Linked DNA regions of Homo sapiens. The protein of the gene in region 1 purifies or fractionates together with the protein of each later gene. This does not show direct contact. Each region holds a gene or a part of one and is shown in the gene's direction. Other genes may lie near its edges.

Evidence for each region.
Region 2: the proteins of SCGN (region 1) and RAVER1 purify together in Homo sapiens (affinity purification with mass spectrometry; 3 studies listed by BioGRID and IntAct, with this or other methods). This does not show direct contact.
Region 3: the proteins of SCGN (region 1) and SGPP1 purify together in Homo sapiens (affinity purification with mass spectrometry; 3 studies listed by BioGRID and IntAct, with this or other methods). This does not show direct contact.
Region 4: the proteins of SCGN (region 1) and PHKG2 purify together in Homo sapiens (affinity purification with mass spectrometry; 3 studies listed by BioGRID and IntAct, with this or other methods). This does not show direct contact.
Region 5: the proteins of SCGN (region 1) and BBS7 purify together in Homo sapiens (affinity purification with mass spectrometry; 3 studies listed by BioGRID and IntAct, with this or other methods). This does not show direct contact.
Region 6: the proteins of SCGN (region 1) and OPA1 purify together in Homo sapiens (affinity purification with mass spectrometry; 3 studies listed by BioGRID and IntAct, with this or other methods). This does not show direct contact.
Region 7: the proteins of SCGN (region 1) and ZMYM4 purify together in Homo sapiens (affinity purification with mass spectrometry; 3 studies listed by BioGRID and IntAct, with this or other methods). This does not show direct contact.

What each region holds. Positions count from the first base shown.
Region 1 is NC_000006.12:25,697,215-25,699,748, forward strand, and holds part of SCGN (secretagogin), read left to right. Parts: intron 1-211; exon of another isoform or gene 212-1,760; intron 1,761-2,534.
Region 2 is NC_000019.10:10,323,530-10,327,029, reverse strand, and holds part of RAVER1 (ribonucleoprotein PTB-binding 1), read left to right. Parts: intron 1-3,463; coding exon 3,464-3,500. UniProt on the Homo sapiens protein: Cooperates with PTBP1 to modulate regulated alternative splicing events. Promotes exon skipping. Cooperates with PTBP1 to modulate switching between mutually exclusive exons during maturation of the TPM1 pre-mRNA.
Region 3 is NC_000014.9:63,697,066-63,700,565, reverse strand, and holds part of SGPP1 (sphingosine-1-phosphate phosphatase 1), read left to right. Parts: exon of another isoform or gene 1-1,769; intron 1,770-1,907; coding exon 1,908-1,997; intron 1,998-3,500.
Region 4 is NC_000016.10:30,751,425-30,754,924, forward strand, and holds part of PHKG2 (phosphorylase b kinase gamma catalytic chain, liver/testis isoform), read left to right. Parts: intron 1-124; coding exon 125-179; intron 180-1,807; coding exon 1,808-1,873; intron 1,874-1,969; coding exon 1,970-2,133; intron 2,134-3,500. UniProt on the Homo sapiens protein: Catalytic subunit of the phosphorylase b kinase (PHK), which mediates the neural and hormonal regulation of glycogen breakdown (glycogenolysis) by phosphorylating and thereby activating glycogen phosphorylase. May regulate glycogeneolysis in the testis.
Region 5 is NC_000004.12:121,828,975-121,832,474, reverse strand, and holds part of BBS7 (BBSome complex member BBS7), read left to right. Parts: intron 1-3,500.
Region 6 is NC_000003.12:193,638,208-193,641,707, forward strand, and holds part of OPA1 (dynamin-like GTPase OPA1, mitochondrial), read left to right. Parts: intron 1-3,500. UniProt on the Homo sapiens protein: Dynamin-related GTPase that is essential for normal mitochondrial morphology by mediating fusion of the mitochondrial inner membranes, regulating cristae morphology and maintaining respiratory chain function.
Region 7 is NC_000001.11:35,267,491-35,271,508, forward strand, and holds the start of ZMYM4 (zinc finger MYM-type protein 4), read left to right. Parts: upstream 1-1,218; 5' UTR 1,219-1,556; coding exon 1,557-1,595; coding exon of another isoform or gene 1,596-1,604; intron 1,605-4,018. UniProt on the Homo sapiens protein: Plays a role in the regulation of cell morphology and cytoskeletal organization.

The sequences.
Region 1 (2,534 bases):
GGTAGAGACCTGGACAGATATCTTAAGCAATAATGTCTTAACTTCTGCCTGTCGCCTCAATGTTTTCAAACACCAGTGTGGCCAATAAATAGCAAACTGGAGACAGAAAACATGTTGTAATTTTGCATGGTTACAGAATAAGGTTCTGGTTAATTAAATATTTTGATTGGTAGAGAATTATTTTAAGTGGGTTACAATAAAATGCACTTACCATCAGTGAAACTCTAATTCAGTTCCTCTAGTGGTCAGAATATGGTCCAGTGTTGGAGTCATGATGACTCTAGGATAGAGATTTGTGAAGTGCTGGTTAACAGAAGGCTTGGATATGAACTTTAATTATTTTAAGAGAATTGGAATGTACAGGAAAGGGTAGGTGTATGACAAAAACAGGAAGGCTGCATTTGAGGATAGTCATTCACTAATTTCATAGATATAATTGAGCACCTACTATGGGCAAGAATTGGGAAGAGAAGGCCAGCCCCAAAGGTCCCCCTATTGCCAAGATTAAAGGGAGACAGGTCAGCATTTTTCAATCAATTTTATTTCAGATCCACTCTCACACTGTCCTATGAGATGAAAGAGGAAAAAGTTACATTTTTACATGAAAGATTATGATACAGTGTAGTGATAAAAAATATACACTTTGGGACCTGACTGCCTGGATTTGTATCTTGGTTCTGACATGTGTCAGCTGTGTGACAGTGGGCAAGTTAATTAACCTCTCTGTGCTTTAGTTTACTCATCTATAAATTAATGATGAAAGTAGATACAACCTCCTAGGGTTGTTCTGAAGATTAGAGTTAATATATTTAGAGCTCTTACCTCAGGAACCTATCTGCACTTATATTAGTCACTTGTTATAAAAACTGTTGTTAAGACTGAGGCTCTAAAGGTTTCTGGTGATTTGTCTTCAGTGACACGTGCATTTTTGAGCTGTGGCATTTAGGTCTCCTGACTCATATTGAGTTGCCCAATATTAAAAACATAACTCAAAAGGTCCAAAGGAACTTCCTTTACATACATCCACATTCATTCCCACATCCCCTAATACACATGCATTCATACACCAAAAATATTTTCTACTCACTTGAAGGAAATAATTACTATGGTGGGAAACAAAGTCCATTATTCTTCAATTAGAAAACAAAACAAAACAAAACAAAAACAAACTTAGAATAGTTTGAATGAGGTAAATACATTGGCAAATTAATTCACACTAATGTGTAAATGACTACCACTTGAGTATTTTCTAATAATGGGATTTGCCAAAAGGATCCTGGGGCCGTTTAGTGGAGAAAAGTTTTACCAACAAGTCACTGAAGATGCTGAAAAGCAAACATCCCCACATTGCACTGTACAACAAATGAACTCCCACCAGGGGGTCTCAGAATGCAGCCTGCTGTTTTCAGGACCTCTGAGCCACATTTCCTTGGGCCACATCTATACTTGCCTGGTACTGGCAGAGAACTACAAGAGAACCTATTGACAAGGTCGAGTTACATTGTGGCCTCAGAGTCTAATCATTCAGGCCACTCTCCACAGAAGAGTGAAGTTGATCAAGTTTATCTTCTGGTCCCAGACTTTCAGCTCCTGATATCTCTCTGAATACCAGGCCTACTCTGGTGTTTATTTTTCCTGCTCTGCCATCTGGCTCCCAATTTCTGTTGCTCTTTCCTCCTTCCTCCTATTTTAAACCTGCTATCAATAATAGATTTGGTGTCAGTCATTTACCCCATTGGACAGTGCAAATTAACGAGTCTTAACGTGGCTTGGCTAGTTAAGGAACAATTTTTTTTTCTTCCCCTACTGATGATGTTTTTAGTGATTTTGTTTTTGGAAGCAAGAAAACCTTGGGGCAGGGTTGGGTAATGGAGAGTGCTTCCCAGAGCCCCTGAAATCAAACCTGCGGGTCGCTGCCTTCTCTATTCACTCATAAAACTACTCCAGTAATCAAGGGGCTTGGAAATTTGACTAAATTTGTTTTTTGTTTTTCTCTCTGTACATTGACTTTTAAATTTAGATTTGTGAACAGAAGTTTTCTGAAAAGGAATTTGGTGGAAAGGCTTTATTCCCGTTAATAGTTTGAAAACGGGACTGGGCACAATGGCTCAGGACTCTAATCCCAGCACTTTGGGAGGCCGAGGCAGGTGTGTCATCTCAGGTCAGGAGTTTGAGATCAGCCTGGCCAACATGGTGAAACCCTGTCTCTACTGAAAAAATACAAAATTAGCCGGGTGTGGTGGTGGGCACCTGTAATCCCAGCTACTTGGGAGGGTGAGGCTGGAGAGTTGCTTGAACCTGGGAGGCGGAGGTTGCAATGAGCTGAGATGGCACCACTGCACTCCAGCTTGGTGACAAGACTGAAACTCTGTCTCAAAAAAAAAAAAAAAAAAAAAGAAAAGAAAATGGGAAAATGGAGGACACACTTTTCAGTGTAAACCAGGGTGCAGAGAACAAAAGGGGGTTTGGATTTTACAAAGTCAGTGCCCACCCATGTTGCCAGTTAGTTCTGTTTGTGCAAATAAAGGATTCAA
Region 2 (3,500 bases), on another chromosome or scaffold:
GAGAGGCCGAGGCAGGTGGATCACTTGAGGTCAAGAGTTCAAGACCAGCCTGGCCAACATGGTGAAACCCTGTCTCTACTAAAAATACAAAAAAAATTAGCCAGGTGTGGTGGTGCAGGCCTGTAATCCCAGCTACTCAGGAGGCTGAGGCAGGAGAATCGCTTGTACCTGGGAGGTGGAGGTTGCAGTGAGCTGAGATCACGCCACTGTACTCCAGCCTGGGTGACAAAGCAACACTGCATCTCAAAAACAGAAAAAAAAAAAAAAAAAAAAACAGGCCAGGCGCAGTGGCTCACGCTTGTAATGCCAGCTCTTTGGAGGCCGAGACGGACGGATCACCTGAGGTCAGGAGTTTGAGACCAGCCTGACAAACATGGAGAAATCCCGTCTCTACTAAAAATACAACAAAAAAAAAAAGGTAGCCAGGCATGGCGCCACGCGCCTGTAATCTCAGCTACTCAGGAGGCTGAGACAGGAGAATTGCTTGAACCCAGAAGACTGCGGTTGCGGTTAGTGGAGATCGTGCCGCTGCACTCCAGCCTGGGCGACAGAGCGAGACTCCGTCTCAAAGAAACAAAAAAAACAAAAACTGAGTATCCATGAGCCACGGGAACCCCCTCTCTGTTTACTTATCATTCATCCATTCTGCTGCTTTCTCTTGGACACCTGCTACGTACCAGGCCTGCTATGTACCAGGCCGCCTGTGCGGGCTCAGGACAGAAGATGAGTTAGCACAATGGCCTCACCTTTCTTTTATTTTATTTTATATTTTTTTAAGACAGAGTCTTGCTCTGTCACCCAGTCTGGAGTGCAGGGGCGCGATCTTGGCTCACTGCATCCTCCGCCTCCTGGGTTCAAGTGATTCTCCAGCTTCAGCCTCCCGAGTAGCTGGGATGACAGCGCCTGACACCACACCCAGCTAATTTTTGTGTTTTTAATAGAGATGGGGTTTCGCCGTGTTGGCCAGGCTGGTCTTGAACTCCTGACTTCAGGTGATACACCTGCCTCGGCCTCCCCAAGTGCTGAGATTACAGGTGTGAGCCACTGCGCTGGCCTGGCCTTACCTTCTTATGTGGAGATCAAAGGTCACAGGGTCATGACCAGCTACAGGTACTCTCCTAGCCTGTTTCCACATCTCAAAATGGGGCTGGCAGTGCTTCATGATCAGGTTGTTGTGAACAGCTGCCCATTCATTCCTCCACTCGAACATTCACTAAACTTAATTTTTTTTTTTTTTGAGACAGGTTCTCAATCACCCAGGCTGGAGGAGTACACTCCGGCCTCGACCTCCTGGGTTCAAGAAATCCTCCTACCTTGGCCTCCCATGTAGCTGGGGAACTACAGGAATGCATCACCATGCCCAGCTGATTTTTAAAATTTTATGTAGAGGCCGGGCACAGTGGCTCATGCCTGTAATCCCAGCACTTTGGGAGGCTGCGGCGGGCAGATCACTTGAGGTCAGGAGTTCGAAACCAGCCTGGCCAACATGGTAAAACCCTGTCTCATGGCACGGTGGCTCACGCCTGTAATCCCAGCACTTTGGGAGGCCGAGGTGGGTGCATCACGAGGTCTGGAGATCGAGGCCATCCTGGCTAACATGGTGAAACCCTATCTCCATTAAAAATACAAAAAAAAAAATTAGCTGGGTGTGGTGGCATGTGCCTGTGGTCCCAGCTATTTGGGAGGCTGAGGCAGAAGAATCACCTGAACCTGGGAGACAGAGGTTGTGGTGAGCCAAGATCCCACTACTGCATTCCAGTCTGGGTGGCAGAGCGAGACTCCGTCTCAAAAAAAACAAAACAAAAAACAAAAACCCTGTCTCTATTAAAAATAGAAAAAAAATTAGCCAGGCGTGGTGGTAGGTGCCTTTAATCCCAGCTACTCGGGAAGCTGAGGCAGGAGAATTGATTGAACCAGGGAGGTGGAGGTTGCAGTGAGCCAAGATCATGCCACCGCACTCCAGCCTGGGCAACAGAGCGAGACTCCCTCAAAAAAAAAAAAAATTATGTGAAGATGGGGTCTCCCTATGTTGCCCAGGCTGGTCTGAAACTCCTGTGCTCAAACGATCCTCCTGCCTTTGCCTCCCAAAGAGCTGGGATTATAGATTCGAGCCACTGGGCCTGGTCTCACCAAACATTTGTTGAGCATCTGATGAGTAGCAGGCGTTGAAGTGATGTCCTCCGAGGAGCCCACCTTTAATGTTAGGTGACCCAGCTGAATGGAGGGTGGGCTTGACAGTGAAGCAGCTTGAGGTTCACACATCAGTCCCTCGACTTAGGAATTGTGTGGCCTTGATCACTCTGTGACCCCTCTGAGTCTCTCTCTGTTCATCCCTAAGATGGGTGTGTTTATGGCCGGGCACAGTGGCTCACGCCTGTAATCCAGCACTTTGGGAGGCCAAGGCAGGCGGATCGCTTGAGGTCAGGAGTTCAAGACCAGCCTTGCCGACATGGTGAAACCTCATTTCTACTAAAAATACAAAAATTAGCTGGGCGTGGTGGTGCACACCTGTAATCCCAGCTACCAGGAGGCTGAGGCAGGAGAATCACTTGAACCCAGGAGGTGGAGGTTACGGTAAGCTAAGTTCACATCACTGCACTCCGGGGTGACAGAGCAAGACTCTGTCTCAAAAAAAACAAAACAAAACAAAAGCCGACAGGTTTGGTTATGGGAGATCTGTGCCCAGACCTTGGCACAGGGCGTGGGCAGAGGTGAAGGGCTGCTACCTGCACCTTTGCTGCCCGGGCATTCAGCAAGTGCCGGTGCCCAGCCCAACCACTTCCCTTAGCACTGCTACCTGGCTTGGCCACTGTCTGGAACGAGAGCCCTTCCTTCCCCACCCGTTGCTGATTATCTCTTTTTTTTTTTTTTTTTTGAGATGGAGTTTTGCTCTTGTTGCCCAGGCTGGAGTGCAGTGGCGCGATCTCGGCCCACCGCAACCTCTGCCTCACAGGTTCAAGTGACTCTCTTGCCTCTGCCTCAGCCTCCCAAGTAGCTGGGAATACAGGCATGTGCCACCACGCCTGGCTAATTTTGTATTTTTAGTAGAGACGGGGTTTCTCCATGTTGGTCAGGCTGGTCTCGAACTCCCGACCTCAGGTTATCTGCCCGCCTCGGCCTCCCAAAGTGCTGGGATTACAGGTGTGAGCCACCGCATCCGCCCGTGGCCTTGGCTTTGTTGGTGAGGTGGCTCCCAGCTCCGCCCTCCCTCCAGCTGTGTGGCCTTGGGTGCGCTGACCTCTCCGTGCCTCAGTTGCCTTCTCTGAGAAATGGGTATGATGCAGCCTCCCAGGGTCATTGGGAAAATCAGATGAGCTGATGCAGGAATGAGGCACAGGGCAGTGGAGGCCTGGCGTGGAGTTCACCCTTATGGGGCAGCTGAGTCTGGTTACGGTTGTCACTTCCCGGGGTGGTGCAGTCACTGCTGCCCAGATGCTCATGACTGCCTGCCTTCCTCCGGCAGCTGGCGTGCGGCCAGGATGGGCAGCTGAAGGGCTTCG
Region 3 (3,500 bases), on another chromosome or scaffold:
CAAGAATAGGAACTTATACTCCCAGAAAAGAATATAATTATTCTCCCAAGGAATATTTAGAATATAAAATTAGTAAAACTTGATTATTTGTTGAATACAACGGCTAAGGAAAGAATTAAGGATAATTCATGTTTCTCATTTGGATTACTTGGTTTTTGGTGTTTCCAAATGAAATAGGGAATATCAGAGGAGGAACAAGTGTGGGTGATATGATGATGAGTTTGGTTTGAGGTATAGTGGGTTTACTGCCATAGGGACCTCAAGGTGGAAATATGTGCAGAGTTGGATATATGGTTCTTAAACCCGGGGAAATGGGTAGGTCTTCAGCATGCCTAGTCTAGAAGTAGTTAAAAAAATAAGAAAGGGGGCCAGGTGCATTGGCTCACTGCACCTGTAATCTTAGCACTTTGCGAGGCCAAGGTGTGTGGATCGCTTGAACTCAGGAGTTTGAGATACCCATCTGTAGTCCTAGCTGCTCGGGAGGCTGAGGCAGGAGGATTGCTTGAGCCTGGGAGGTTGAGACTGCAGTGAGCCATGATTATGCTGCCGCACATCAGCCTTGGTGACAGAGTAAGACCCTGTCTCAAAAAAAAGGAAAAGGTAAGACTGTCAGTAACTACTAAGGACAGAATCCTTCTGTATACTAATGTTTAAAGAACAAAAAGAGGAAGATACGCTCTTGTGTGGGAAATGCAGCAAAAAATAAATGGTGAAAGGTGAACCAGGAGAGTATGAAGCTATGACTATCGAGGGTATTTAGAGTTTCAAGGAGAAAGTGAGGGACCATGTTAAATGTAGTAGATATGTAAAAAAAACAACAACAACCAAAAAAAAAAACAACTCTGCCTGTAGTTCCAGCTACTCAGGAGGCTAAGGCAGGAGGATCACTTGGGCCCAGGAGTTCAAGGTGTTAGTATGCTATTATCACACCTGGGAATAGCCTCAGTACTTCAGCCTGAGCAACATAGTGAGACCCTGTCTTTCTAAAAAAACAGAACAAAACAAACCACCAAAAACCAACAATTTCGTACTAAATATTTTCTACTCTTCTTACAAGCTTACTTAAGTCCCTTGCTCCTTTATTTCAACCCAACTTCCCTAACCACATTGGCTTCAATTTCATTGAGAAATTTGAAGTCATCAGGCATAAACAGCCCCAAATGTGCCCTCCCTTCTTCCCTTTACAAACTTACCACCATGCCCATCCATCCTTTCCTCTTTCCCTCCAATCTCAGGACATTCACAGCCAACTTTTCCACTAGTGCCATTGATACCAAGAATTGTCTGCACTTTCTGTTTATGCTTTTTCCCTTTTATGATTTGTGCTCCTAGTATTCCACGGAAATTTTTCTCAGTAAGGGGACCATTTGAAATTTTAGTCAATGGGGTGGAAGTGAAAAACTAAGTACAAAGTGTTGAATACTGAATGCAAGGTAGGGGAATAGCAATATAAATTGGAGATAGCAGTCACTGATGAAGTGAGAGGGAGATAATGCCAATCCTCCTCCCCAGACAACTGAAGACATTTACATGGACCAGATTCAGGTACTATTCCAGAGGCCCTTTCATTTTGGTGGCCATATTAAAAGTATGTCTCTTACCTGTCCTCCTCCTCCTATACCATGCCAGTGATTGAATCTTCATTGTAGAAGCAGAAGTGAGCCAGTTCCCACAATAAAGAATTTAGACACATGAGATTTCATTCATTTGTTCATTTGTGGAAAAGTATTTCTTGAATGTCTGCCATGTGCCATACTCAGGGTTAGGTGCTGGAAATACAATGGGGAGTAAAAACAAATTTCTTGTTTTAGTGGACTTTATAGAATAGTGATTTGATTTGTCTTTTATTTGTTTGTTTATATCTAACTTAAATTTGTTTAACTAATTTTACTTTTTTTCCCCTTTAGTACCCTCTTATATATGGACTGATTCTTATTCCCTGCTGGTGTTCTCTAGTTTGCCTAAGTAGAATTTACATGGGAATGCACTCTATTCTGGTAAGGAAAATGTTGTCTTCTTAATACTTTATTTTTTATGACATTGACAGGAAATTTTATAATTTTTAATCATTTGCAAACTTACCTGAAGCCTAAATGAGAAAATATTGTAAGTCGTCTAACTTTGTTTTGCGAAAATATCAACATGATGGTTTATGAAATATTAATGTAGTAGTCACATATTTCATAGAAACAGTTTCCAGCAATCACAATAGCCAGGTATTATAATCAAGATAACATTTCTTCCTCCTTCCAGTCTCCCTTTTATTTTCCTTTGCAGTCTTTTCTGTGTCTCTCTTATCACTGAGTCAAAACCAGCAATGTGGCTACAGAAACCAAGGAGAGCTCCTAAGTATTGTTGAAGAACTAGTGACTAGAAACTATGTGAACTTAAACTTTCCAGGGGCCATTTGTGTTTACATATTAAACTCTACTTTTCTTTTCTTTCCCATCAGTATGTTAGGACTCACAGTGGACATTGTGTTTTGAGAATGCAATTCGGTTCCCAAAGCAGCAGCACAGGGACCCTGTACTATTTGCAGCCACACCCATTCACTTTCCCTCCTCGCTATCCCTATTGACACCCCCTTAGCTCTGGCCTGCAACATATCTTGACCAGATTACTGTGATAGCATCTTAATTAGTAGCCAACTTCCAGTTTGACACTGCTCCACTAGCATTCAGCTGTTTCGTAGACTTTCCAAAACACAAATACGATGCTATACTGAATTATTAGGTTTCCTCCAATGCAAAGGGTTTCTTACCTCCATAACTTTACAAATGCTGTAACATTTACTTGGAATGCCCCTTTCACTTTCTTTACCTTAACTATCCCATTCATTCTTCAAGACTCACTATAGATATTCTTAACCCCTCAAAGCCTTATTACCTTCCCCATCTTCTCTTTCTCAAGACTTGTGAGGTGACCCTTCCCCACTTATCCTAAATTGCAATTGCTTTTTTCCTTATCTGTCAAGTATACTAGACTCCAAGTTCCTTGAGAACAGCAACTGTGTGTTTTAACTCTACCTTTAGTATCCAACATGGTGTCTCATGAGGCATCTATGAATGAATTATGTATTATCATGGAGATAAAGGATCACAAAAAAAGGTGGAAGAATTCATGGAATTCTAGTTTCTAATGGGTCATGTCAGTTTTTTTCTTGTCCTTAACATGTTACCATTTTTAGAATTTTTTTTCTCATATTATTTCATTCTCTTATTTCTTAGTTATAGAAATGTTGGTTTCTATCTCAAATTTCTTGCTTCCAGCACCTGCTCCTTCACAGATAAATTTCCAGAAGTCCCAAACACTATTTTATTTTGTTGGGAGGCAGTGTGTGCTGTAATTTTGGGGTTGGTCATTGTTTCTAGGTTTTTTTAAATTTTAATTTTAGATTCAAGGGGTACATAAGCAGATTTGTTTGCAAAGGTATATTGTGTGATGCCAAGATTTGGACGTCTATTGATCCTGTGACCCAGATGGTGAACATAGTACCCAAC
Region 4 (3,500 bases), on another chromosome or scaffold:
GCCTCCTCTGGTTCTCCTTTCTTCCCAGTAACAGCCCGCTGCTGTCCCAGGGTGGCCAAGCCCCGTTAATGTGCATCCACTCCTTTCCATCTCTGTCTCTCTGCCTCTCTTCCTCTCTCCCTAGTCACCCTCATCGATTCCTACGAGTCTTCTAGCTTCATGTTCCTGGTGTTTGACCTGTGAGTATCTCCCTGCCACCATCTGAGAAGCCTCCTCCCCACCTCCATGTATGGCCCAGCATTTGTGGTGCAGTGGGCTGGACCCATCCTGCTCACACCTTCCTGTTCCAGCTGGGGCTCTCTATCACCTGGGCCTGCCTGCTAGCGCATGGCTCTGGCCTTCTCCCTTGGTGCCATGATTGAGGCAAATTCTTTAATAGTGACTAGTGGCTGGGTGCAGTGGCTCACGCCTGTAATCCCAGCACTTTGGGAGGCCGAGGCGGGTGGATCATGAGGTCAGGAGATCGAGACCATCCTGGCTAACACAGTGAAACCCCATCTCTACTAAAAATACAAAAAATCAGCCGGGCGTGGTGGTGGGCGCCTGTAGTCCCAGCTACTCGGGAGGCTGAGGCAGGAGAATGGCATGAACCCGGGAGGCGGAGCTTGCAGTGAGCCCAGATTGCGCCACTGCACTCCAGCGTGGGCGACAGAGTGAGACTCCATCTCAAAAAATAAAGTAATAGTGACCAGCCAGACGTGGTAGCTCATGCCTGTAATCCCAGCATTTTGGGAGGCTGAGGCAGGTGGATCACCTGAGGTTAGTAGTTTCAAGACCAGCCTGGACAACATGGCGAAACCCCGTCTCTACTAAAATACAAAAAATTGGCCAGGCATGGTGGTCGGTGCCTGTAATCCCAGCTAATCGGGAGGCAGGAGAATTGCTTGAACCCGGGAGGCGGAGGTTGCAGTGAGCTGAGTTCGTGCCATTGCACTCCAGCCTGGGTGACAGAGCGAGACTCTATCTCCAAAAAAAAAGAGAGTGTTCAGCAGTGGACTGACCACTTAGAAAATAGATCCTCACTCACCAGCCTCTCGCGCTGCTTAACACGCTAACTATTCTGGTGTCTGTCTCTGCCCATCAGTTCTTTTTCTGGTCAGAATCTGAATGTCCGATGCAATTGGTATAATGCAAACCAACTGCAAAGGTATTTTGAAAGAGAATGATTTGAATTCCAAAGATTTAAAAGAGGCCCTTGGAAAAAATTCATGAAGGCTTCGATATATTTACAGAAATGGCCCTCTGCAAAAGTCAGAGGGGACGTAAGGATGTCTATTATGCCATCCTGCAGCCATGCAGAGTGCCTACACTCCCCAAAACAGCACCTGATAATGTTACTTTGAGGACTGATGCAGAGTGCAAGTATAACCTCAATTTTGAAAGTATTATTTTTAATTGACACATAATTATAACCTCAGCTTTTAAAGACGAAACTTCAAAATAAGGTCCTATTCAACCTTTGTGCCACAAAAAACTGAAATTTTGGTCCATTTTCTTTATAGATTCACTTTGAGAGGCCTTTTTCAGGCATAGTTACTCTCAACAAGAACCTCCTATAAATTATATTGTCACAAGAAGTCTCTTATTTTTGCCATAATTGCCCCATCATGGCATAATGCAGGTATTTCAGCTGCCAACACACCAGGCCAAACTGCCTTGTTGGAGTGCTGTGTTTCTAGACCCTTTGGTTTGTCTGCAGAGATCTATCTTTAGTGGCCTCTTCCACAATATTTTGTATGAGCACTGGTCTGTTTTCTCAGCCCCCACTGTGGGATGCAGCTGCCTCCTATGCCCCTCCTTCCCTTAGGATGCGGAAGGGAGAGCTGTTTGACTATCTCACAGAGAAGGTGGCCCTCTCTGAAAAGGAAACCAGGTAAGGGTTGAGCCTGAAGCCCCAGGGGTGAGCAGGGGGTGGGACAGGGCAGGGAGGAGCCGAGGAGGAGACTGCACCCGCCTCCCCTTCCCCCAGGTCCATCATGCGGTCTCTGCTGGAAGCAGTGAGCTTTCTCCATGCCAACAACATTGTGCATCGAGATCTGAAGCCCGAGAATATTCTCCTAGATGACAATATGCAGATCCGACTTTCAGATTTCGGGTTCTCCTGCCACTTGGAACCTGGCGAGAAGCTTCGAGGTGAGGGGATCTAGTGCCCTAATAGGCTTGGGAGGGGAGACCCAGGCCTGATGAGATTGGTTGGCTGGGTCTGAGTACCAAGTCCCTGGTGCCAAGAAAAAGGGAGAAGTCATTGGGCACTTGCCAAGTATCCTGTGGGCGCAAAGCCTATGTTTACCTCAGAGTGGGCATCCTGACCTGGGAGGATGGAGACAGACAAGCAGGCAGACAGACAGTGGTGCACAGTGGGCAGAGGGCCAGGCCAGGGGAACCCGGAGGAAGGAACGCCAATTCAGCCTGAGCCCCATAGAGGAGGTAAAAAAGGGAGCCACATGTTCAGCCACGTTTGGGGTCTGGAGTGCAGGACCACAAGAGCCTGATGTGATGTGTCCAGACTGCACTTCCCACCTGGGCCCTGGGCCTCAGGTTCACCTGATGTGAATACAGTTGTTGTGACAGGAATGTTTCTACTGCAAATGGGAAACTTCAAATAAAATTCACCTGTGGGATTCTTCAGAGCCTTTAGTCTGCCACTGACTCTCTCCCTCAATGGTTTGTACTAGACTTATGAAAAGCTACCGTTTACTGGGCATTCACCTGTGAGGCAGGCACCAGTCTTTTTTTTTCTTTTTTCTTTTTTTTTTTTTGAGACAGAGTCTCACTCTGTCACCCAGGCTGGGATGCAGTGGCATGATCTTCACTCACCGAAATCTCCACCTCCTGGGTTCAAGCTATTCTTCTGCCTCAGCCTCCCAAGTAGTTGGGATTACAGGTGCCCACCACTACGCCTGGCTCATTTTTGTATTTTTAGTAGAGATGGAATTTCACAATGTTGGCCAGGCTGGTCTTGAACTCCTGACCTCAAGTGATCCTCCTGTCCCAGCCTCCAGAAGTGCTGGGATTACAGGTGTGAGCACTGTGCCTTGTCGGCACCAGTCTTTATATGGCTTATTCCCCTAAATCCTCTCCACAGCCCTGTGTGACAGACAGTATTTGTGTCTCTTTTTTTATAGATTGGCTCAAAGAGGTGAGATGACTGCTCTAGGGTCCTAATGCTAGGATTTGAACTTGGACAGTCTGACTCCAGAGTTAATACTCTTAACCTGTGGACCCACATGTCTGGTGGATGTTGTACTTTAAAACCCTTTGGCTTCCACATGTACTTTTCCCGTTTGTGGAATCATCTTTGCCTCTGCCCACTGCATCCTCTCCTTGGCTTGGGTAATTCAGGCTTCACTTTAAACCTCCAGGGCAGCTTAGGTCCCCTTGCTTTCTGTTCTCCCATCTTCTTCATTCACAACACGTCTTACTGTATTGTTATTTCTCACTTGCCTTCAGGTAGACAGTGAGCTCGGTAAGGGCTCATCTCATTTGCCACTTGGCAAATC
Region 5 (3,500 bases), on another chromosome or scaffold:
CTTCTTGGGCAAGGCCAATATCTCTACCTCTACCCATTAAGCTTGGATCCTCCTGCTTCTTCAAAGTCTTTGCATTCTCATTCTCACATCTGTAGGTTGTTTTTTGTTTTTGTTTTTTTGTTGTTGTTGCTGTTTGTTTTGTTTGTTTGTTTTGAGACAGGATCTCACTCTGTCACCCAGGTTAGAGTGCAGTGGCATGATCTCGGCTTACTGCAGCCTTGACCTCCCACCTCAGCCTCCTGAGTAGCTGGGACCACAGGCATGCACCACCATGCCCAGCTAATTTTTTTATTTTCTGTAGACAGGGTTTCACCATGTTGGTCAAGCTGGTCTCAAACTCCTGAGCTCAAGCAATCCTCCTGCGTTGGCCTCCTAAAGTGCTGGGATTATAGGCGTGAGCCACCACACCTGGCCTGTAGGTTGTTTGTTTTGTGTGTGTGTGTGTGTGTGTGTGTGTGTGTGTGTTTTTGTTTTTTTTGCTTTGTGTTATTTGTCTGGGAGAGAGCTCATTATTCTTTCTCTGCCTCTGCCTCTTAAGGTTCTTTCCCTAAGCAGATTATTGTGGTTTTCTCCTAAGTTCTAAAAACTTAGCATGGTAAAGTCTCAACTAGAGAGCAAGAAGTAGAATACCTCTTGCTTCTCTTGTTATTTTAGGATAATAACAGTATTATTCTAAAAACATAATTTTACCTCAGAATTCAGCCTTTTAGAACCAAGAACTCTTCAGAAATCTAATTGGTTTTTAACATCCATTCTGTGGAGGTTTTTCACTGTACCGTCCAAGGAAGCTTATCTGTGTCTAAACCTGTAATAATTACTCCCATTTTGAAGTACCACAATGAACCTCACACATTAATCATAGCAGACAATTCAACATGCCCCTAGCATATTATATACTTTTATAATAGCAGACCTTTGCTCTTTTATCATTCTGTGTCTTTGAGTATTTTTTCTTAAGATTCAAAACTGTTTATCCTTTAAGGTCCAACTTAATAGCTACTTTTTTTTTTTTAAGAGAGTCTCACTGTGTTGCCCAAGCTGGTCTCAAACTCCTGGCTTCAAGCAATCCTCCTGCCTCAGCCTCCCCAGTAGCTGGGATTATAGGTGCAAGCTACTGCATCCTGCAGTAGCTACATTTTTGAAGCCTTCTTTGATTCTCCCTTGATTCTCTTCTCTGTTTCCATAGCATTTTTTCTTACTTGTCTGTGATATTTATTGTTATCTGCTTAAAGTATATAATAATTTTTTATTTTTTATTTTATTCTTTTTTTGAGACAGAGTCTTGCTTTGTTGCCATTCTGGAGTGCAGTGGCACGATCTTGGCTCACTGCAACCGCCACCTCCTGGGTTCAAGTGATTCTCCTGCCTCAACCTCCCGAGTAGTTGGGACTACAGGCATGTGCCACCACGCCCAGCTAATTTTTGTATTTTTAGTAGAGACTAGTTTCACCGTGTTGGCCAGGATGGTCTTGATCTCTTGACCTCGTGATCTGCCTGCCTCAGCCTCCCAAAGTACTGGTATTACAGGCATGAGCCACCAAGCCCGGCCTCTAATAATTTTTATACAAACTTATTTCTCTAAGTTAAACTTTATTTTCATGGACAGTCTAATTTTAAATATCTTTGTATGTAGCCTGCAAGGACCTAAAACATAGTTTTGCACATAATAGGTACTCAACAGATGTTTTTCGGATGCCTGAATAAAATATATGTGTATGGAGGTAGTGTAGAAGTATGTGCTTTGGAGGCAGATGTACTAATGTTTCAATCCTGGCTCTGTGACTTACCAGCTGTGTGACCCTAGCTGGTTGCTTAACTCTCTGAACTTCAGTTTTCTTTTCTGAGGAATGAAAATAATAGCACTTACTTTATTGAATTGTTATGATGATTAAAAGAAGATAACCATTTGAGTCATTCTATAGTACCTGGCACTATGTGTTTACTAAATATCATCTGTTAAGATTAAAGACTAATAGAAATGTCATGATTTCTAAAACATAATTGAGATCAAAGTAGTAAGGGTGTATTATTTATCTTTCTAGAAAAAAAAATTATCTTTTTTTTTATTTGTTTTGAGACAGGGTCTCACTCATCAGCCCAGGCTGGAGTGCAGTGTCTCAATCTCAGCTCACTGCAACCTCCTCCTCCCAGGCCCAAGTGATTCTAATGCCTTAGCCTCCTGAGTAGCTGGAATTTTAGGAGTGTGCTACCACGCCTGGCTAATTTTTGTATTTTCAGTAGAGACGGGTCTCACCATGTTGGCCAGGTTAGTCTCGAACTCCTGACCTCAAGTGATCTGCCCGCCTTGGCCTCCCAAAGTGCTGGGATTACAGGCGTGAGCCACCACAACGGACCAAAGCAATTATCATTTGCATATAGCTAGTTGGTATACATCATTTGTGTGTGTGTGAAAACCAAATGAAAAGGTAACATTAACTATATGAAAGATGATATATATTAATTAGGAAACTTGGTCATCGTAAAAAGGAACCAAATGCAAGCAGCTTAACCAAATAAAATAAATTTATCGGCTCACATAACTTAAAAGTCTAGCAGTAATCTGCCTCACGCACAACTGGATCAGTGGCTTAATTGATGTCATCAAGATTTTATCCCTTGTTCAGTTCTGCTTTTATCTTTTCTTGGCTTTACCATGCAGTGTTATGGCCACCAGCAGTTCCTAGAATCCAGTCTTACATATTTTCAGCTGCTATAGAGCTTCTCTTGCCCACTGGCTCCAATAAAAGTCCCAGGATTGAGTATCATTGTTAAGCCATGAACCACTGTGGTCAGGGGTATGGAATGTACTGCTCAATGCTTCCTCCTGAAGTCCCAGAAATAGACTGAGACCATTGCCACTGAAACTGAAGAGGGCAAGAGAAAGAGGAGTGGTACCCTAAAGAAAAATAACGATCCTGGCCGGGCGTGGTGGCTCACGCCTGTAATCTCAGTAGCTCATGCCTGTAATCCCAGCACTTTGGGAGGCCAAGGTGGGCGGATCACAAGGTCAGGAGATCGAGACCATCCTGGCCAACATGGTGAGACCCCCATCTCTACTCAAAATACGAAAACATTAGCTGGGTGTAGTGGCATGTGCCTGTAATCCCAGCTACTTGGGAGGCTGAGGCAGGAGAATCGCTTGAACCCAGAAAGTGGAGGTTGTAGTGAGTGGAGATCACGCCACTGCACTCCAGCCTGGCAACAGAATGAGACTCCGTCTCAAAAAAAAAAAAAAAAGAAAAATAATGGTCCTCTGACCATAAGCAGTGGCATTGGATGCTGAGCATGAAAAACAGCAGATGTCACTCTTTCATATTTGATATCAGATTTCTTTTAAGGATAAAGCATATAGTCACACTGTAATTTGTGTGATTACATGAAAGAAAAACATACTTATGTAAGTAAGCAATTCTAAGTGCATTTTATATATGTCTATATATGAGACTAGCTGTTGGAAATATTAGTGAAAAATGAAGATAAAAGTTGTTTAAATGAAGTTT
Region 6 (3,500 bases), on another chromosome or scaffold:
GTAGAAGGCACAGCCAGGAGGCCAGTGTGGCAGGAGCTGAGTGAGGGGAGAGTGGTAGGAGAGGATGACAGAGACCCAGTTGGGAGGCCTTTGGATTTTATTCTGAATAAGATAAGAGAGAAGTTAAGAGAATGAGAATATTGGAAGTGGAGTCAATGAATATAGATAATTTTCTAGTTTTATTGTGACAAAAGAGCAGAGAAATGAAGCAGTAGCAATTGAATATTGTTGAATTAAGGGAAGGTTTTTAACCCTTTTCCTGTTTAGAAAAAAAGTGCAGCTCAACACCAGTGCTCATTTAATTTTACGTAAACACACTCTCTGAAGCTGAAGCAAATCTGACTAATTTTCAATGTGAAAATAAAATATAAAAACTGTTCTTAGAGTTATTTCTAAACAGTACTAACATCAGAATCGTCCCAATCATCAGAATGTCTGTTTTTTAAAAGTCAGATTTATCAAATCAATCTTCGGCCAACAACTTTTTGAGAATGATGTAAACATCACACATAGGAATTCCGCATTTTCTAGGATTTGACATTTTCAGCTATTGAAAATTACTATATTTTGTAAATGGACGTACCGCTACTAAAAACAGAATGCTTGAAATAGAATGTCTTTTGTTTCCAAAGTCAGTACACTAGAGCTATGTGAAAATAATCATAAAAGTGAAGATATTTTATGGCAGAGTTATGTTGGGGCAAATGCTGCAGCTGCAAGCGGTGCTGGCAAATATTGTCGGAGCAAGTGGGAAAAGGATTAAAGATGTTTATATGCTGATTATAATGATCTAATAAAGGGGGGAAATGATGCAAGAGAGAGGGAAAATTGCAAGAGCAAAGTTACTGAGGTGAAGGAGATTGTGACTTGGTGTACTAGTCCATATCTGGGAGCACTGACAATTTCTCCAGGGTCACAGGAAGAAGGTATGGGGCTGCAGAGTCTTTCATTGAACAGATATTTACGGAATGCTTAATATGTACCAGTAGCATTCTAGGCAATATGTTGGTAAACAGCAACAACAAAGAAGAACCTTGCCTTAATGGAGGGTATGTTCTAGTAGAGGGAGACAGATAATAGATAATAAATATAATACATAATTGTATAGTAGGTTAGAAGGCAATAGTGTTGTACAACAAGAAAAAGCAGAACCAGGCAAGGAGAATGAGGGTGCCAGAGTATTCATAGATTGCATTGATAAGGTGGCATTTGAACCAAGATTTGCAGAAAGTGAGGGAGTAGTCCTGAGGATATCCTGTGTTCAGCAAGGAGAATAGCTGATGCAAAGCCTCTGAGGTGGTTGTGTGGCTGTCATGTTCAAGGAACAACAAAGAGGCCTGTGTGGTCAGGTCGGGGTGAAGAGCTAGCCATGGTCGGGGCAAATGATGACATTAGAGGAATAATGAAGAGCGGGGAGGAACAGATCAATAAGGCCTTATAGGCCATTGTACAGACTTCCGTTTTAAGTAAAATGGAAAGCCAGTGCAGGATTTCGAGCAAAGTAACAAAAGTGCCTTTTAAAAGGCTGCTCTTTTGAAAATAGTTGTAGCCAAGATGTAGAACCAGGGAGTCTAGGCTACTGGAGTATCCAGGTGATACTTGGGCTAGGGAAGTAGCAGTGAAACTGGTAAGAAATGGATAGATTATAAATGTGTTTTGAAAGTAGAATTAACAGGATTTCTTGACAGGTTTGATATGGAGAGGGGAGAGAAGAAAAGCAATGGGGAGAGAGAGAGAGAGTGTCAATCATCAATGATGCCTCCAGGGTCTTTAGCCTGAACAAATTGAAGGATGTAGTTTGCATGGAAGTCTGTCAGTGGATCAGGTTTGGGGGAAGAAGATCAGGAGTTCAGTTTTGGACTTGCTGAGTGGTGATAACAAGCAGTTGGGTATACAAGTTTAGACAGAGGTGTGGGCCAGAGACATACATTTAGGAGTCATGATCAACTATCTAAAAGTAGTATTTAAAGTCATGATCTTACTGGAGAAGATCTTCAAGGGAGTGAGTAGAGATAGAGAAAACACAGAAGCAAGCAGTATATTCTGGGCACTCTGAACATTAAGATGTTGAGGGAAGAGAAAATAACAAAGGAATGTGTGAAGGCCCAACCAGTATAGTAAGAGGGAAAGCAGAGCAGGACAGTGTGCGCAAAGTCAGGTAAACAAAAAGAAAACATGGAGGAGGAGGGAGTGCTCAGTGAGGTCACATGCTGCTGATCCATCAAGGAAGGTGAACATAGAAACCAGTCGTTGAGTTCACCAGTGGAGGCAAGAAAGGGGAACGTGTGGAAGTTTCCTTCTGATTGCTTCCGCTTACTCAGTGAAATACTAAGCCAGATGATCAGCTGTTAATTAGAAAGGAGAAGAGATTAAAGACTGAGGCAGGAAGAAAAAGTGAAGTCTGTTAACAGATCGTGGTGACTCTAGGAGTGAATCAGTGGAGAAAGTCAAGTGATATTAGGATTACTGAGGTGGACTGAAGTCCCTTTAAGTTCTGTGGACATAAATTTTAAATGAATCATTATGATTGTGTTTTGTTTTTTTCATGTTTAGCTGGTGGGGGGTAGGTGTAGAATAATTGGAAGATTGAAATTACCAAGAATTATGGCAAGAATAGTGGGAGAAAGACAGTGAGGCTGATGCTGAAATCTTCAAGAAATGAAATCTGTTTACAAGTGCAACAGGGTATGGGCAGCCTAGTGTGATTCATCTAGATTGCACTTTTGTGGGTCTAGCTATGGATTGAATCGTGTTATGTGTTACTAGTTCTGTGTGTGGTACTGTGTGACTGTACCAGACTTTACATATCCATTTTACTACCGATGGGAATTTGGGGTACATCTAACCTAGAGAAAAAAACAAAATGAACCTCAGACTACACCTCATATCCTGTTCAATAATCAGTTGTAAAAACATGGGAGAGAAACCTACCTTTTACATTGTTACTAGCATCCTAATTGTAGAAGCTGTGGATGATACTTCAAGAAGAAATTAATTTTGTTTTGGCAGGCAGGGTGTGGACAGGTTTCCTTGAAACAGATGAGGCTGGTCTCTTTCCGGTTTGTCATTAGTCCCTTAGTGTTTACTAGAGCTTCTCCTTGACCAACCCTGAATTCCAGTTTTTTGTTTCCCTAGAGCAGTGAAAGTGCCAAAACCCCAGCTTAGCATTTTAACCTCCTTAGCAGCTTCTTTCTGCTTGGTTTCCTAAAATGTGAATGCCGTGAAAGGAAATTGTGCGCAGGATGTAGGGTTTTGTTTTGTTTTGGAGGTTTATTTCTGCAGTTCATTTTTCTTTGGGATTGTGGCACCTTAAGACGTGACTACTTAATAACTCGGAATTCCAATCTTGTCTACTCAACCCAGTGAAACTGCTACACATTTTAAGTTTTTCTCTTGGGCCTTTGCCCTGTGCTACAAATCAGCAAATCCTCTGATGGAAAATAGCTAAACAGCTTTCCAACAGCTGTTTATTGTTTTTAAATTTAGCCTGTTTAGCTAAT
Region 7 (4,018 bases), on another chromosome or scaffold:
TAGCTACCAAGTGCTAAATAAAACAGAAAACAGAAGTTACATCTCATTATCCTGTGACTTCAGGAGTTATCATTCCCACTTGAATATGTCTTGTCATGGGAAATGACCTTCAGGAGGCATCTTCTTTGTATTTCTTACTATATGTCTCCCCACTGTCCCTGAACTATCATTATAAACTTAATTTTTTCTGCACCCAAAGCTTGTGGGAACTAGAATGAACAGAAGAGGAATGAATGAAGCCCTCATTCTTTTCAGCGATTTTCAGCTTAGGACCCAGTTTTGGAACAAGATAGACCCAAATCTACTTCCTGGTTTCCTGCTTAGAAATAAGATGCTTATCCTTTAAGGCAGATTGTCAAGCTCCTTCAATAGAGGTGAATGAGGACACCCATCATCTGCAAATCATTACATCTTCACAAGAGAATTATGATATTCTCCAAATACCATGAAACTTCAATTTTTAATCTTCTAGGGATATCAAATTAAACCAAATTTATCTCTCGCCTGAAGACAGCCTGGAGGACTGAGACTGTAATCTTGATTCCAACTCCACACCAGCCATTAGTTACATTGGGACAAATTCCTTCCCATGATCAGGCTGCAATTTTATCATTGGGAGCACTGGAGTAAATGGTTCCCTAAGATCCTTCTCCATTTTGATGTTCTAAGGATAAATTACTATTGAAGAAATTATTTCCAGTTGTTGGTTCAATCTTCAAAATCACCAAAAGCTTTGATTTTAAGGTGAGGTTATAGGAGTTGGCTCTTGATATTCTATGCCTTGTGCTTCAGAACAGGCAGTCGAAAGGGAGGAAAGTTGGTTTTCCTTGAGATGACTGTCTTGTTCCCTCATTGGTTTGGGATTCTTCATGTTCAGAGGTCCACTGAGAACTTCAGCTTACCATGACTTTCCCTCTTCAATGGTACCACTGTAGTCAGGTGTAAGATGGTGATGTGGAACCCTTCACTGACATTGCACCCAATTCTCCAGATTGTCTTTCCAGTAATTTCTTTCATTTCTCCTTCATCCCTGCGTCATGGTCCCTTTAAGGGAGCGGCCATAGTTGAGTGGTGGGAGCAGCTGCTGGCAGCAAAGAGACTTGCAGGATTTGGCCTACCCATGGCCACTTACCGCGCACGCTCAGGACCGGGGGCTTGGTGGGAAAGGAAGGAGGGACTTAGGGTGCGCCTGCGCATCAGGGGCGCGCGCAAGGGGCTGATTTGGTGATCCCTTTAAGAAACCGCAGGCGGAGGAATTTCTCTGAGAGAAAATAATCCTACTCACGGGGCCCCTTGGAGGCCATTAACCCCCCGAGTCCCGGCCCCCACCCCGTCCCCGGGCAGGCCCTCCCGCCCACGCGCGGACCCGTGGGATCTCAGAAGCTGCGGCCCGGCGCGCGGCATCCGCCCCCTCCCCACTCTCGGCGCAAGGCCCGGCCGGGTCCGGGGAAGCTGCCGCGAGGCGGCCGTGCCTGCAGTGTGGGCGGGGGCCGGGGGGCCGAGAGGTACCGCCGCCACCGCGCGGGGAGCCGCAGCGGTTCCGAGCGGGGCCCAACATGGCGGAGAGAGAGGTGGAGTCCGGCCCCCGAAAGAGGGTAGGTGAGGTGAGGCAGAACTCGGGCGGCGGGGGGCGGGGCGCGGCCCGGGGCCGGGAATGGGCCATACTCAGGTTCGTGGAGGGGTCGCCGAGGCCCAGTTAGGACAAGGTTGCGGGCAGGTCTGAGGCAGCCTTGGGTCCGGAGCGCGCTGGCGAGCGGTCCCTCGGCAGGTGGGACAAAGATTTGGTGCTGGGTGGGGGGGAGGGGAGGGGGCCGTTGTTTGCCTTCCTCCCCCCGACGTTCCCCAGCACTGGGGTGGGATATCTAGGCCCAGGGAGGGGAGGTGTCAGATTCTTAAGTGCATCTTTAGTGCATCTTTAGTACATCAGAGTCTGGAAGTTAACTGGGGAGAGGTCAGGTGGGGGTGGTGGTGGCGGGAATAAGTCGTGGAGGGGTCTCAGGAGAAATAACCGGAGGGTTCTTCAGTAACACCATCGCGAATTCATTTTCCTGCCTCCTTTCCCCTCCCCCCATAGCCGTTATCTAGACCAAAGTCGGGGTGGTGGTCTTACCTGTGAAGAAGTGGGATCGTTGGCATGTCCTGATTTAGGAGAAAGATTTTGGCTACTATGAATGTCATGTTCTAGCCTAGCCTCTTACTCGCAATTAGGGACTTGGAAGAATACGACAAGTTTTCTCATAACAGGGATGTACCCAATCAACCTGCAGAGGTGAAGCCAATTCTACATAGGAGTTGTTTGAATACCTTTTAAAGTTTGTCTGGAAACTTTCCTTATTTAATTCTGAGTGGTTTTTTTCAGATGGCGAACAATACTGTACTATCGATTGAGCAATATCCCTCACTTTTCTTTTACTTCCTCCCCGCTTAGCATGATAAGAAGTAAGTTTCCTTTTAGGAGTCTTCCTTTTGGGAATGGTTTCAGAAACGATCAATTAGCAAAAGGGCAAAAAATTACTACTTTATGAAGAATGCCCTTTCAGCTTAGCGTAAAATTAGTAATCTCGTAATGATGCTACAGCTGATGTTTTGAGTGCTTACTGTGTGCCTGGCACTGAGCTAAGACCTTTATGTGAAGAATTTAACTTCATAGTAACTCCTCCTAGAACCTATTTGCAGATGAGGAAATTTAGGTGTTGAGGGCTTAAGTAATTTACTTAGATCACACAGCTAGTTGCAAGGTTGAGGTAGGATTTGAATCCAGGTTTGTCCCAACTATAGTGCCTGTGTGGGATGCCACAGAGGAGTTTCTTTAATCTGTGTTTCTCTCCTTAAAAGCTTAAATTGTAAATGACCAAAGAAGTGTCAAGTATTATTTTTTCCAACAATTTATTAGGAAAATATTTTGAACTATCCGTCAATATTATAAAACTTACGGGGAGCAGTCATACACCCAACCGCCTAGATCCTACTGTTAACATTGCATTCCGGACATGCACAGCGGCTCACGCCTGTAATCCCAGCACTTTGGGAGGCCGAGGCGGCAGGATCACTTGAGGCCAGGAGTTCGAGACCAGCCTGGCCAACATGGTGAAACCCCGTCTCTACTAAAAATACAAAAAATTAACCCGGCGTGGTGGCGGGTGCCTGTAATCCCAGCTATTCGGGAGGCTGAGGCAGGGGAATCGCTTGAACCTGGGAGGCGGTGGTAGCAGGGAGGCGGTGGTAGCAGTGAGCCGAGATCGTGCTACTGCACTCTAGCCTAGGTGACAGAGGGAGGCACTGTCTCAAAACCCCCTCCAAAAAAAAAATTGCATTCCACTTGTTTTATCATATATTTACCCCTCTATCCCTCTTTCTGTTCATCAGTCGTGTTATTTTAATGCATTTCATCGTAGTGTTTTGAACAATAAATTTTTACCATTGATAAGTTTACGAAATGTTGGATTCACCTAATGCAATAATTAGTCATAGAGCAAGTTAAGCTGTATGATGGTATGTCCAAATAGTTTTGTAAGTATAAATGTTGTGTATGGAATGCATGTGTTTTGAAATTTTAAAATTTTCAAGTTGTGTTCAGTTTTGAACTAGATCCTTACTGTGCTTGGATGAAGGCATATGGCATATAGTCCACCAATGAAAATATACAGGGTAAATTACTTAAGATATGTAATGTTAATTCAGGGAGATTTCTGCATCCAGTTGCTGTGAATGTTGTCATTCACCTTCTGTACTAGGATGTTCTAGGATATTCTAGAAAACATTGATGTGTGTTGACAACAAATTCAACTAGATTTTAAATATATTCTGCCTCTTGTCGTACACTTAAAAGATGTTACTGGTCTTGTGAATCTTCTGCTAAAGGAATGCTGGAAAAAAAAAAAAAGATACCATACTGGTAGCAGTAAAAACTTTATTATTATTATTATTTTTGAGACAGAGTCTTGCTCTGTTGCCCAGGCTAGAGTGCGGTGGCGCAATCTCGGCTCGTTGCAACCTCCGCCTCCCGGGTTCAATTAAT